3 linked regions of the Homo sapiens genome follow. The protein of the gene in region 1 interacts with the protein of each later gene in a pairwise test. Each region holds a gene or a part of one and is shown in the gene's direction. Other genes may lie near its edges.

Region 1 (4,643 bases):
ATTATTTATTTGATGAGACATTGTCATCATAATTTCCCTTAACCTGTTAAGCAAAGTTTCATTTATGTCTTTGAGCATATTTGTAATAATTGCTTTGAAGTGTTTGTTTGCCCAGTCTACCACCTGTGCCTCATCTAGAGGCAGCTTCTTTTGGTTTTCTATGTGTATTGATCACATCTTTATGAAGTTTTTTTATGTCTCATAATTTTTTTGTTGAGAACTGGATATTTTAAGTAACATAGCAACTCTGGATACTGATCCCTATTGTGGTTGTTTGTTTGGTTATTGGTTTATGTGTATATAACAGTGATATAGCTGAACAAATTCTGTAAAGTCCATTTTCCTCACAGTGTGTAGCTTCTGATATCCCAGCTCAGACTTTTCCCCTCTTAACCTGACTACTTATGTGGCATTTCTGGATTGGCATAGACTATGTACTGGTCACAGGTTGTGCTTACATTCCCTGAGGTAGGTAGATTTTTACCCTTAAGTGTTAAATGTGTGTGTGGCTTGGTGGCTGCTATTATAGTTCAGGGAGTTTACATTTTTTTTTGTCCTGCATTTAGCCAGGTGCTAGAAGCTTGGAAGTTAGTTCCTGAGAGGGCCCAACCTTGAGCATGTACACAGTGTTCCAGACTGTCAGGGATGACAGTGCTGTTTCATTTAACCCTGGCTTCATAGGAATTACCCCTGGGTCAGAGTAGCTTCTGTTACGTCGTGTTTGGCCAGAGGTGGTGATTCAGACCCTTGTGCCAATGAAGTTTCTCCGCTCTGTCAGTGGGTACGTGTATAGCTTAGAGAACGTTTTCAAGACTGCCCCACGTTCTGCCCTGATCATTCCTGGGTGTACACAGCCTAGTGTTTTTATACTGCCTTTCTGACTCCTCTCTGATCTAAGAGGGCTCTTCTTGGCTGTCTCTGGTTCTCTGCATTAAACTTCTGCTTGCTCTGCCTTTCTGCTTATATTGGAGCTCCTAGCCTTTCTTAATTGTTTTTCATTAATATTTCCACTGTTTTCTTTCTTTCTTTTTTTTTTTTTTTTTGAGATGGAGTGTCGCTCTTGTCGCCCAGGCTGGAGTGCAATGGTGTGATCTTGGCTCACTGAAACCTTTGCCTCCTGGGTTCAATCAGTTCTCTTCTCTCGGCCTCCTGAGTAGCTGGAACTACAGGTGCACGCCACCACACCTGGCTAATGTTTTGTATTTTTTGTAGAGTTGGGGTTTCACCATGTTGGCCAGGCTGGTCTCAAACTCCTGGCCTCAGGTGATCTGCCCATCTTGGCCTCCCAAAGTGCTGGGATCACAGGCATGAACCACCACACCCGGCCCACTGTTTTTGATAATGCCCTTAGGCATGGGGTTCTGCTCTCTGTTCCAAATAAAGTCAGTCCTCTCAGATGGAAATGTAGAGCTCTTTGTCCTTATGGCTCGTCTTTACCCCTGAGCAAAGTCTCCATGCCACTGCTCCTGGGGCTGAAGGTGAGAGTCTTTTTTCCCCAGAGTAACACTCCATTCTTAGAGTGGGCAGTGGAGTGCTGGTAGCAGCCCTTGGTCTTCTTAGCTGACTGCTCCTGGCACAAAACCTCTACTCTGGGAGGAAGTTGGGGCGGTGGCAGTCAGGGCCCAGTATTTGCAGCCTGCTGTACCTGGAATAGAAATTCTACCTTTTGAATGGGGGCTGTGTAGGGAAAGAGAGACGGGTCCTCTGTGTCACCTCTCCAGAACAGAGCTTCTACACCTCTGGGCTGAAGGAGAGGAGAAACACCAGCAGCCTGCCCTTCCCGGGGTAAAACTAGCCACAGACTGGAAGCCTGAGGGAGAGGGAGCCCTCTGCCTGTCTTTTGGGTACATATACCGCAGGTAGAGGCTTCATAATACAGACCTGGTAGGATGTGGGGAATGGTGCAGTTTGTAACTCAAACGCCACAGACTCTGACTTGTTCTGAGATTGAGTACATTTTCTTGAATGAATGTTTCTCCACTTTTTGTATGCCCTTAGTACAGTTTCCAGAGACTTTAAATGTTTGTTTTTTAAAAAAATTTTCAGCAGTTTTTAATTTTTAATTAATTAATTTTTGTGAGGCAGGGTTCTGCCGTGTCAAGCTGGAGTGCAGTGGCGTGATGTTAGCTCACTGCAGCCTCAAACTCCTAGGCTCAAGTAATCCTTCCATCTCAGCCTCTCAAGGGGCTAGGACTATAAGCATGCATCAGCATGCCTGAGTAATTTTTATTTTATTTTTTTGTAGAGATGGAGTCTCACTGTGTTGCCAGGCTTGCCTCAAACTCCTGGCCTCATGCAAACCTCCCTTCTCAGCCTCACCAAAGCCCTGGGATAACAGGTGTGAGCTACCACGCCCGGCCTACTAGTTTTTAAAATGTAGTTTTGCCAGTTCCACTGAGCTCCTTATTCTGTCATTCTGGAAGTTCTCGTTCATTTTTAAGCTTTTAAGATCAGGTTTGAGATCTTCTTTATATGTAGAGGCAAGGAAGTTGTTATTACCAAATATGATTTCCTGAAGATACTATACTCATGCTAACAAAATAAATTATACTTTGTTGTAGTAAACTAAAATTTATATCAGAAAACTTGAAACCAGTCTGGAAGGCAGCCTTATTTTCCTTATATAGACCAGGATTTTGACTTTAAACTCATTTTCCACACAGCTTTTCAATTTGATGATTCAGACTGACTGTTCCCAGGCTCTGTAAATAAAGATTCTCTTTGTAACAGATAACATTACGGACAGGCTCTACCAGCATACCCATTGCCCTTGAAACTTTACAAAATGCTTTGCCGCTTTGTACTAGCTTTTTCTTCTTCCCAGCCTGCTTCTAATTACAAACAGGAAAATCAGACAGGATATGGCATTGTGACTGAACAAGTTCATTCATCTAACATTATTAAATACCTGCTTCATAACCGATAACTGGTGAATATTCTTTTTATTACCTATAAATGTGTCCTAGCCTAGAGCCATTCTTACTATGGTTGCGATATTTTAAAGTTATTAATTTAAATTTGACTTAACTCTTTGAGCATAATTATGCAAAATAGTCATTTCTTTGGAGAGAAAACTTACTGTAGAAAATGGAAATGTTTAATCTTATAAAATGCATCTTTTTAAAGAAACCCAGAGCATCTGTGAAGCAAAGCAATTAAACTAAATGTTAGCAACATAGGAGAGGAGAAATAACTGTCCATGTGTGAAAAGGAGACAGTGGGGCTTGGTAACTTAGGGGAAGAAGTGATGTTCAGGAGGCCTTAGGTGTTGCTTTAATATTCTCTGTACTGCTAGCTGTGAATCTAGACAAAAAATTGTATTATTCTCTGCTTCGGTTTTTTTCCTGACTTTAATTGGAAAATAATCACTTATCTCTCCTGCACATTGGATTGTGGACGAAAAAAATAGTGTAATTTGATAAGGAATTGTATAAGATTTGAAGTGCTTTAGGAATGTTCAATACAATGGTACCTGTCCCACCCAAAGCGATTTATAACAGAAAGCTCTGAAAGGATGTTGCTGAAACACTTTCATTTATAACCTGGCCTAAAGCGAAGTCTTAGGTAAGGTGTTTTATAGCGGAGCACACATGTTATATGTATGCTGTATAAAGGGAACTTTCCTATTTTCTATTCTCTTTTCTAATAGAGAAAAGATAGAACTCGTAAGGCAAATATTTTTCTTAACTATTAGCTCCAATCTCATTCTTCCAAATTTTTCTGGTTATTTTCAGAAGAAAAACTAAATTTAGGTCACACTTTCTTTCCTTCTCTCTTTCTCACAGTTAAATGGCCCAATGAAATGAACATTAATAAAAAAAAGCAGTAGGAATTGTGAATAGTTTACTGGACAGTTTGGTCTTAAACTTTAAATCATTGTCTTTATTATGTGGTTAAAATATATAAGGTAAATAGTGGGTCCTAAACCAGAAGGCTTTGATCCTAGGGTGTTCTATTTTTCATTTCTTAGAAGCCAACCAAATTTAAAACATGAAGAAAAAAATGGGAAATAATCATAAAGCATTGCTTGAGTTTCCAAACATATATAAAAAATAACAAACCCCCTTCATTGAGGTCAGGCACTGTTATAAATGAACTTGTCTCGTTCATTTATAACATTGTCTCATTCATTTATAACAACATCCCAATGAGGAAGGAGTCTATCATTTTTCATTTTGTGAAGAGCCAACTGTGGCCTAGACAAGGCAATTGAAACTTATTCCAGGTTGCTACAGCTTCTAAAAATAGGATGGACATTTTAAATGATGAAATTAAAAGGCAAATATTTTCTAAATTACCCAGTAGTACATATTCTTTGTTAAAAAAATCAATGATACAGGAAATCAAATTTTTAACAAATCATCAATAACTCTATATGTTTTTATGTGTGTATAATTATACACACACAAACAGAGTGAGAGAGAGAGAGAGATCTGAAAGATATGCAGTGAAATTATAGCATTGGCTAACCCTGGAGAAGAAAAGTGAGAAGGTACCAGGAATGGAAGTGATGGTTAAAAAAGTCTTTAGCTTTATTTTGAAAGTTCTGATTTTTTGCAAGAAGAATATTTTTTATGTAGTAGTTGTATAAACTTAATAATTTAAAAACCCTCAAAGAATGAGGACAGGAAGCCAAATTCCAG
Region 2 (4,643 bases), on another chromosome or scaffold:
CGCTTGGGCAGCCCGGGGACTTTCCAGCGTAGAGCCCAGAACAACACATTCCCCATGCTCCCCTCGCAAAGCCAAGGTGGACACTTTTATTCCTGCAGCCCTACCTCTGGCTTCTCACTCCCAGATGCACCCACATGGTCGTGGGGTCAGGCCCTGGCTCTGAATTTGGGATTTGGCCAAACCCAACATGATAACCTCAGAGGTGTGAACGCACAAAACATCAAGTTCCTTGGCCTTTGACTAGAATTTTGATCAACTCAGGGTGTTACTGTGCAAAAACGGCTCTTGTTGACAGCTCTGGGCTTGATGAGAAAAAAAATTAACAACAATTTTATGTATCTCCTTCTAGATCTTTTCTGGGCCCACACACATATTATACAGATCTCATCAATAATGGAGAAACTGGTTTTTTGTTCATTGAACACAGTATAAAATAAGGGGATTGTGGTGGTGAGGAAGCAGAGGGGATTCATAAGGGCCCTTTAGGTGAGCCAGCTGGAGCTGGGTTTGGCTTTGGTCCATGGCAGGAGTGGGCAGGGCTTCCTGTCTCTTTGAGGACCTTCCCTCCCACCACCCCCACAGCTCTGGCCTTTCAGGGTGGACAGAGGCCTTTGACCTCCTTCCTCCAGAGACCTGGGGCCTCTGCAAACCCATCCCAAGGCTCTTTGCCTGCAATGTACTAATCTGCTCTGGTTTCTTAAAACTCACTCCATGCTATTGCCTTGAAGTCAATTGTGATGTCATGGGAGATTAGGGCAACTTGTCAGGGATGAACCATCACAGCAGATGGACTCAGAGATACCAAGACACCTTTGGAAGTCTAGTGCCGTTCATCAGAGATACTAAGATGGCACGACCTCCCCGGCCTGCAGCTGGTTCTCATCAGAGGCCTCATTTGGACTCTGAGCACTCTCAGCTCAGCATCTCCTGATGTTGTGGGTGGTTCAAGAGACAAGAGAAACAGATGTAGATTGGTCAGAATCTGGCTGGGGAGGTGGGAATGACATTGTGGTGCTCACAGTTTTATCGAGGAATATTTGCACCACAGCAGACCTCTGCAGGATGATGGAAGATGCCGGACTTGCTGTCAGAAGCTGGCTGGGCATCCCCCCACACAGGGAGATCTCCTGGCAAGTTGTAGAACTGGCTGACCCTCGGCTTCTCAGCTGTCTATGGAGGATCATAGCATCTGCCACGTAGGGCTGTTTTCCTGAGGTTTAAATAGGATGAGGCTTGTGAAATGGGATGTGAAATAAGAGACTGACGTGGAGGAGAAGTGCAAACAGGGAGGTGAGGTGTGCTTGAGGTTTTAAAGCAGCGGAATGTTACACAGTATTTCTGGCCTGTTCCCCGGGTCCTTTCCTGACCCCACCCTGGCTGTGAGCAAGGCAGGGCTCCTCTGTCCTGGGCAATCGGTGATCCTTGGAGCAGCGGGGAGTTCTGTCCACTGCAGAATGCCTGGCTGTCTTTTCAGGTTGTTTTAATTCCTCCTTGCTACTCTCAGCCCTCCTGCAGGCTTACAGTTCCCTCCCATTAGCTAAACAAAGGATCTCAGAGCAGTTACTTGCACCTTAGTGTGAATGATTTTGTTCACTTGTTCCGTCTCCCTGGATATTTGCATTTTCAATATAATGAGGTTGCGTTTTATGCCAGGGACAAGTTCTAGGAGACCCTGCATCATTCAAAACTAACATATTTTAAGACTAATTTTCCTGTAGGAATTAATGTAGAGTGTGTGGGGGGGGGGGTGGTATATTCTGAGAGCACATAAATCCATAACCAGTGAAGTGTATCTTTGCCTTAATGCTACTTTTTATTTTCTCAGCATTATCTTGAATACCTTGCAGAACGCTCTCTCCTAAATTAACAGCCCAGGGTATCATGGGCTCCCTTGGCCTTCCTCATAGCGTTTTGTCACATTTAACTTCCGTACCAAAGTTATTGATTTTTGGGTACATTTTTCAGCACGAGCACTGCCACTGCTACTTAATGAATACTTGGATGACATTGTTATGGGATATAAAAAAGATTTTAAATTATAATAACAGTGAATGTTAAAATAACAGCATATTAGTCCCCATCATTGCAAGAAGAAAATCCTGTGTGTGTAGCAGTGCCGAACCAGCGGGCCACCAACCAGGATGACGGGTCTATCCCAGTGGCGCTACCATCTGGCTGTGGTGAAAAGAATTTATAATTCCGTAGGCCAAGCTATTTTGAAATTAAGTGATTCTCGAGAAATTAAAACATTTTTGGTGATTGCATTATTTCACATTTTTTAATATAAAGATTGTACACAAGTGCACTATTTCCCATTTGCATAATTCAAAGTTGCATCAGACACTCCCGTGTAGACTATAAATATGCACAGAAGGGACAGACTCCTCAGAATGAAAAGGAAGGCATTTTGGAGGTTCCCCTTTGTCTTTTGGAATGACTCTCTAAGTAGTGTAGTCTCTGTGGCAGGGGCTCCGGAATCCCTACCCTTCGGGTTCAGGGCTTCAGGGAGGGAGTTGGGCCACAGTAGTTCCGGGATGACAGTGGCCACGTGAGAGAAGAAAACAGCCCGAGGAGAAGGGAAGGCACGGGTGTGTCCCCCCTCACTGTGTACACACATGTCCTGGCTGCACAGCTGCTTCATTCCTCTAGTGCCTCCCAAGATCAGGGCAGGCCGTGTTGCCCTCTGGACTTCCAAGGGGGAAGTGAGTTACTGGCCCAAGTCACTCACTCATCAAGAACACTGAAGCCAGGTCTGCTGACTCCAGGGAGAGCCTTGTAGATTGTGAGGACCGAATGCATATAAAGTCCTTAGTCAACACCAGCACATGGTAGGTGCTAACACATGTTGGCTACTATTGTTTCTAAGAGAGGGTTTTCTTGAATGGAAAGAAAGGAGAAAAGACAGAGAGGAAGTCAGGAATGTCACAGAGACACCTTCTGGGGCACACAGGTGAGCAAGCACAGAGAGCAGAGCTGCCCAGGCCAGCTGCTGACTTTATTCCGTGTGTCCTCCAGGGGCACTGTGGAGAAAAGGGCAGTATGCCTAAGTGCTGGGAGAGGAAACAAACCTTTACATTCACCTGTGCTTCCGAACACACGCACGCGCCTCTCTCTGTACCTGACTTTGAATGGAACAAACCAGACTTTAACTAACAGGAACTTGAGCTTGTTCACTCAAAATCTGTCTAGGACTTTGTGTTGATCAGTCAGTGTGTTGCCCAGAACATTCCTTAGACTAGTTTTCTCAAAAAATTTTGACTACAATCCACAGTAAAACTCATTTTACATTTCATCTCAGTACACATATTTATACAATAAAAACTAAAGTTTAATGAAATGATCTTGCCATTCCATCCCATTCTCTTCATCTGATTTCCTGTTTTAGTTTTGATCCACTAAGGTGACTTTACAGCCCACGAGTGGGTTCTGACCTATAGTTTAGAAACCTGCTTAGACACTGTTGGGTGTGCAAGCTCACCCCTGGCTGTGAGCCCAGCGACGCCAGGGCAAAGGTGACATGGCTGTGGGGAAATGGGAGACTCCTGATGAGACAGAGGGGAGGGCATCTGGGGCGACTTTGAACATGACTTCAACCTGGCTGTTCACCTTCACAGCTCTGGCAAGAACTCATGAGGATGTGTGAGCAGAGTGTTTGTCATGACAGGGACGTGTGGAATTGGGTACATTCAATCTGATGAGACTTCTGTGCAGCTGGGCTGGCAGGGGAGGGTTGAGGCAGGGAGCTGAGCAGAGAAAGGACTGCTGTCCTCACTTTTCAGTGGCTTGGGAAGGCCCGTGGTGCAGGAGTCAGTGCCATGAGAGTGGGGACCTCTCCACTCTGATGTCCCCTGTGCCTCGCGCTGTCCTGCCTACAGCAGGCAGGCTTAGGTGCAGAAAGGATGGAAGGGAGGGTGTGGGAGGAGGCGCAGCTGCTGCAGATAGGCCGAAGCCAGTAAGCAGTGGTTTTTCCTTGCAGATGACTCAGAGGCTGGAGCTAAGCGGCCCCGGACCACCATCACAGCCAAGCAGCTGGAGACATTAAAGAATGCATACAAGAACTCCCCCAAGCCTGCCCGGCACGTGAGGGAGCAGCTGTCCTCAGAGACAGGCCTGGACATGAGGGTCGTACAGGTGAGATGCCAGCACTCCTGTGCCCTCCGGGGATCCCAGGCCCGGGACAGGGGTGGAAGGTATCCTGAGTGACATCAGCTCACGGGTGGTTGGGCTCAGGGCTTGACCCCAGGGCTTTTGCCAGAACTGAAGACAGAGTTCTGAGGCCCACCTGGGGAGAGGGGGTGGGGCGCATCGCACTCCCAGACCTGTGCTCCATTCAGGCTTCAGTCTGCTTCCAGCCGCCCGCCTAGGGGGTCCTGGGGGCTTTGGGTTTGTGGTGGACGCCCCCTGAGTATGTCCCTTGTGCTTGTGTGGCAGGTTTGGTTTCAGAACAGAAGGGCCAAAGAGAAACGCCTGAAGAAGGATGCAGGGCGGCACCGCTGGGGGCAGTTCTATAAGAGCGTCAAGAGGAGCCGGGGCAGCAGCAAGCAGGAGAAGGAGAGCTCTGCAGAGGACTGTGGGGTTAGTGACAGTGAGCTGAGCTTCCGAGGTGAGCAGGGCTGGAGGGGCCAGGCCGAGGCCTTAGGAAA
Region 3 (5,289 bases), on another chromosome or scaffold:
TGGCTGTGATCGGCGCCAGCTCGTGCATCGTGCCCGCCTGCCGCTCCTTCGCGCCGCTAGTGGTCTCACTATGCGGCCTCTGTTTTGGCATAGCCCTAGTCGACACAGCACTGCTGCCCACGCTCGCCTTCCTGGTGGACGTGCGCCATGTCTCAGTCTATGGCAGCGTCTACGCCATCGCCGACATCTCCTATTCGGTGGCCTACGCGCTCGGGCCCATAGTGGCAGGCCACATTGTGCACTCGCTGGGCTTTGAGCAGCTCAGCCTTGGCATGGGACTGGCCAACCTGCTCTATGCTCCCGTCTTGCTGCTGCTCCGCAACGTGGGCCTCCTGACGCGCTCCCGTTCCGAGCGCGATGTGCTGCTTGATGAGCCACCGCAAGGTCTGTACGATGCGGTGCGCCTGCGTGAGCGTCCTGTGTCTGGCCAGGACGGCGAGCCTCGCAGCCCGCCTGGCCCTTTTGATGCGTGCGAGGACGACTACAACTACTACTACACCCGCAGCTAGCATCCCCACTCCTCCTCCAGCCCACCCAACCGCCTTGGGTCAAGGGGGCTGCTCTGCAAGCCCACTGGCCAGCTCTGGCTCAGGGCCCACCTCCTCCAGCGAGTACCCCAGCCACTCCTCAACCTTGACTTCTGCCCAAATCCCCTCCCTGTGACCCGTTCCATATCCCTTTCTCTCTTGTCCAATGGGGCTTGGAGCACCGAGGCCAGCGAAGCCATCGCGCTCCTTGCGGAGGTGAAGAGGACCCTGAGTCCCCACCTGCGGCTCCCCTGTGTAGAGCCTGCATCTGTCTGTCCTTCCTTCCATTGCTCCCAGTGCCAAACTTGGGCCGCTGCACCGCGGCGCCTCCGCCCAAATCAATAAACTGTGTCTGTCCCAGGAGGCCGAGTCTCTTTACTGGTGGGGGGTGCGTGGAGGCGCGCAGGGCCAGAGCAGAGGGGAGGGTGAACTGGGTCTCCAAGTCCCAATCCAGACCTAAGCCAAACTAACACGTAGGCACCTGTAGCTGTTTTTCTACCTGGAAAAGGGGATAGGAAGGAAGCAAACCCAACAAAGGCTGTCACCCACGGTCACCAAGGAGCACCATGCTCCCCTCAGCCCAGGATAGACCCTCTTTTCCAGGCCTAGCGCAGAGCCCGGGGATGCCGCCCGGGGGAGCCTGAGGACCCGCTCCAGCTAGGCACGCCAGGCCCCGCCCTTTGAGGACACGCCCCACACCAGCCTCAGAGCTCTGAGGTGCCTGGGCTGAGCTTCCCTTCAGACCAGAATCCCGCCCCGTTGAGGCTTTGAGAAAGGAGTAGGAGCCGAGCATTCCGGCAGAGGAAGAAAAACGGCCCATCTTTTAGAGTCCGACCTCTGGAAATGTGTGTATGATGTGATGTGTGTGTTCATTAGAGAACTTGTCCTAGGAGGAGTGGGGGAGCCGTGGTTGGTGTTTGCTGTATCCCTGTCAGTCCCGAGGGTCTGAGTCTTGAAGGGAGAGATGCGAGTGTGGGATCTGGTGCCAACCCCCACTGCCACCCTGTCCTGAGTGGGAGCAGCGGCCCAGGACTGTCAGGAAAGTTTCCCATCCTTAGTCCCAGCCCTGAGAGCCTCAAGCCAGCGTTCGCGCAACACTCCATGTCCCGAAGACCGTAGTCTGATGATCGAGGCAGAGTCTTCCCATCATAGCGTGAAGAGGCGGCTGGTCAGGGTCGCCTGTGTGTTAGCTGCGCCTGTGAGGGTCTGCTCTGCTGTTGTGCGCATGTCTGTCCTCGATCTGCGAGTCGGGCTGTGTGTGCCTGGGCGGAGTCTGCCTTTGTCGGTCTGTCTGTGCTATTTCTGTGTGGGGGTCTCTATCTGGGGTGGGGGATGCTTTTGTCTGAGAGGAGAGCCTGCCTCTTGCCGCAGTCCTTAAGCATCCTCAGGTCTGCCATCAGGATTGTCCCAAGTCTGTAGCACCCCACCTCTGCTCCCCACCCCATAGTGCCAGCAGGAATGGGATGGTAACAGAAAGGGAAGTCCTGCAGTGAATATTGATCCCAGTTATTGTTTCTTATTATTATTTTGAAAGATGGTGTAGCAGGGTTTGAGACTGGCCTGGATGGTGGGGAGAGGAGGGCAGCGAGCAGAGACTTCCTCAGACCCAACCCTCTCCAGGATTCAGCAGCAGCACCCCAAGGCTGGAATAATGGGGTTGGGGAAGTGCGGTGACTGGGAAATGCTGAGCTAGGGGCAGGAGGCATGGGCGGGACAGTGTTCTGTGCCCCCTTCTAGAGCCTAAATTTGTTGCCCGAGTTCCTCCGGGAAGCGCTCCGGGTAGATTCTGGGGGCCGGGAGCTGAGATCCCTGGGCGGGGAGCTGGGGAAGGGATGGGGCTGAGGACAGCGAAGAAGAGGGGGCTTGGGGGAGGGGGGAAATGGAAGAGAGAGGAGGGAGGAGGTACAAGAGGAAGGAGAGAAGTGCGGCCAGCTTGCTTTCTCCAGTCGGGTGGCCGCGGGGACCCGGGCGACGTCGGAGGCCCTGCCGGGAACCCAGGCTGCAGCCCCCACCCCCGCGCTGCGACACGCCCCCCACCCCTTCCGGCTCACACCCCCGCCCACACTCCTGAGTGGTGCGGTGCAGCGTCGGCCGAGGCAGCAGAGCCGAGGAGAGCAGGTGAGAAGAAGGGCTGGGCTGGGCTGGCGGAGCGCGGTGCCGGGAGCAAGGGCGGCGGTCGGGGGCTCTATCCAGGGACAGCACCGGGGCCGAGAGGCCCCAGGACTCGTGGAGTCCTCTGAGTCCTGCGCAGCAGCGGCCGTCGGGGGTCAGCTAGGAAGCTGCAGGATTGCGTTGCTTCGGTGCCTGGGCTTGGGGAGGCTTAACCATCAGGGCTTCGGGACTCCAAGCGCATGTTCTCACTTCACTTGGCCCAGCATCTGCTAAGTGACCAGGTCCGCGCTTTCTGTGTCTAGTCGGAGGGTCCTTGGGTCTGACCCGACTCGCCTGAATTGCTGGTTGGCAACCGCTTCTCCCGGGAGCAGGGGGTGGGGAAGGAGGAGCAGTGGCTGGTGGCAAGTCTGAGCCAGGACATAGCCGATGACAGCCTGTGAATGACCGGCCAGACTGGGGTTGGACCTTCGGGGCAGAGCAGGCAGCCCTTGGAAAGCCAGGCTGGCAGGAGCATGGGTGGGAGGCACAAAACACAAACAGACATATATACACATACATCCTCTAGGCATCTGCCCAGGAGTGATGGAGGAAGAAGAGTTGGTAGGTGGGACCACCAGGAAACCATCCCACCCAGCTCTGCCTTCTTCAAGCTCAGGGTCCCTGAAGCCTGACTAGTGTCTCCCGAATGGGGGGGAGGGGGGGGCTCTGGGCCAGAGCAAAAGGAGGCATTGGCTGCATGGTCTGTAGGGCCTTTACCAACCTGACCTTGTCCTTGCTGTCCTCTCAAAAGACTGCCATGCTCCGGTGAATCCTCACCAGGACGCCACCTCTTTCACTTTGCAGTTGGGGGCAGCCCCTACGAACCCACAGCACTGGGAGGCGTGGGAACAAGCCTGTGGAGAGTGTCCCTGCACTGTGCCAGCAAGGGCTTTACATTCTCTGCCCAGCACTGCAAGGCAGCCCCAGGCTCCTCCATCCTTGGGCCTGGTTCATCCATCTTTCTGGACTCTCTGTTCCTGGCAACAACCCTGCCAGGTGCCCATACATGGGCGGTGCTTGCCTCTGGGTAGGGGTGGTGTTGGGTGGGGAGAGGGGTGAGGAAATTAGCTAAACCTCAGCTTTAGACTTGAGAGAATAGAGGGTGGGCTGGTGGAAAACATGAGTATGTGCCTGTGGAGGCTTAGGTTCAGGGGGATCTCAGAGGGTAGCAATTGTGACCCACAGCCTAATAATAACAGTCTTTGCCCTCTTGGCCTGGCTCACTTCTACTGTACCTTCAAAATTAATCTGCCTCTCCCCAGACTAAGGCAGGTGGCCCCTAGGGGCCCTGGCTGCCCAGCCTCCCTGCATACCTCCCTGGGCACTCCTATGGCATCTACACTGGCAGCCTGCAGACCCGAGACTGCCTAGGTCACAACGCCTCCAGCAGGCCCAGAGTCTCCCTGCCCTGGCCACAGGCCAGGCTCCCAATTAGCCCAGATGCATCCTGGAGCACAGGGCCTTAAAGGCCTCCATTCACCCACGCATGCATTCCTTTCCCTCCACCAACGGAGTGAGGGAATTCACCCTACTCCACACCAGAGATGTGGCCGGAATGCAGAGATGAAGCACTGAGCACAGTAGGTATGGTCTTACCCTTGAGAAGCTAGTGGGAAAGAGAGAGTTTGATTGGCAAAGCACTTATCTATTGGGTTCCAGGCAGGAACAAAGGCAGCACTCTGCCAGCAACCCCTGGTGGATTTGGATTGCCCCAGGGTGGTCAGCTGGCCTTGGGTGACAACAGACTCATGAGAGCAGACCCTCACTTTAGGAACCACTCTCTCCCATATGGGGGCCCAGAGAGAACACTGTGGTCAGCACGTACAGGTGGAAGTAGAGACTGGGGCCACGCCTGCAATGAGACCCCTATACACAGCTGTCAGGCTCTGGCCTCCTCATGGGGCTGGGGTGGGGGTCTGTTGGCGGGAGGTGGAGGGTTTGTGACAGGCCTATGTGGCTGCTGTGTTGATGCTTCCCACTTCTTGGTCCCCAGGTCCACACCTCTGCATCCCTGCACCAGGACTCACCAAGACGCCCATCCTGGAAAAGGTCCCCCGTAAGATGGCAGCAAAAACTCCCAGCAGTGAGGAGTCTGTGAGTGACTTTTGGAGCCCTCTCTCAACCCTGCTTTCCCCACCTACATGCCCTTGCTTCTAGAACAGTCCTGAGTGGGACTGGCCCCCAGCATTTGCCTGGCCCCAGCCCTGCCCTCTACTGGCACAAGGCCCAGGCTACAGCTCCACCCCCAGCTTGCTGAGGATCCCAGAAGGGCCTGGAGGGGCTGAGACGGGCCTCAGGGTGCCAAGGAAATGCTAAGAGCTTAACTTCCAAATCCCCTGGCCAGGCTAGGCCCTATCTTTCCTTCCAGGGCCTCTCTTCATCCCAGCTTCCACTTCTGATAGCTTTGAGCCCAGTGATTTTGCCTTAGGGTGGGGCTGAATTCCTACTCCAAGCCCTGCAAGTCCCAGCTCCAGCTGCTATCACTAGTTCAGCCTTGGAGCCTTAGGCACCATGTTCTCCACTGGCCTGAGACAATGCCATCCTCCCTGGGCAGGCATCCTCCCTCCCGCCCCAGCCAGCCTTCGGGTGGCAGAGCAACACACCTGACTTC

The links.
Region 2: the proteins of PARP11 (region 1) and LHX4 interact in binary tests that used the Homo sapiens proteins (3 or more experiments, as listed by UniProt).
Region 3: the proteins of PARP11 (region 1) and CHAT interact in binary tests that used the Homo sapiens proteins (3 or more experiments, as listed by UniProt).

Annotation. Positions count from the first base shown.
Region 1 is NC_000012.12:3,831,035-3,835,677, reverse strand, and holds part of PARP11 (protein mono-ADP-ribosyltransferase PARP11), read left to right. Parts: intron 1-4,643. UniProt on the Homo sapiens protein: Mono-ADP-ribosyltransferase that mediates mono-ADP-ribosylation of target proteins. Plays a role in nuclear envelope stability and nuclear remodeling during spermiogenesis. Inhibits the type I interferon activated signaling pathway.
Region 2 is NC_000001.11:180,267,404-180,272,046, forward strand, and holds part of LHX4 (LIM/homeobox protein Lhx4), read left to right. Parts: intron 1-2,249; exon of another isoform or gene 2,250-3,976; coding exon 3,977-4,131; exon of another isoform or gene 4,132-4,431; coding exon 4,432-4,603; exon of another isoform or gene 4,604-4,643. UniProt on the Homo sapiens protein: May play a critical role in the development of respiratory control mechanisms and in the normal growth and maturation of the lung. Binds preferentially to methylated DNA.
Region 3 is NC_000010.11:49,611,831-49,617,119, forward strand, and holds the start of CHAT (choline O-acetyltransferase), read left to right. Parts: upstream 1-2,206; 5' UTR 2,207-2,359; coding exon 2,360-2,645; intron 2,646-4,192; exon of another isoform or gene 4,193-4,222; coding exon of another isoform or gene 4,223-4,262; intron 4,263-4,671; coding exon 4,672-4,772; intron 4,773-5,289. Other genes in the region: SLC18A3 (vesicular acetylcholine transporter), read left to right, coding at 1-509. UniProt on the Homo sapiens protein: Catalyzes the reversible synthesis of acetylcholine (ACh) from acetyl CoA and choline at cholinergic synapses.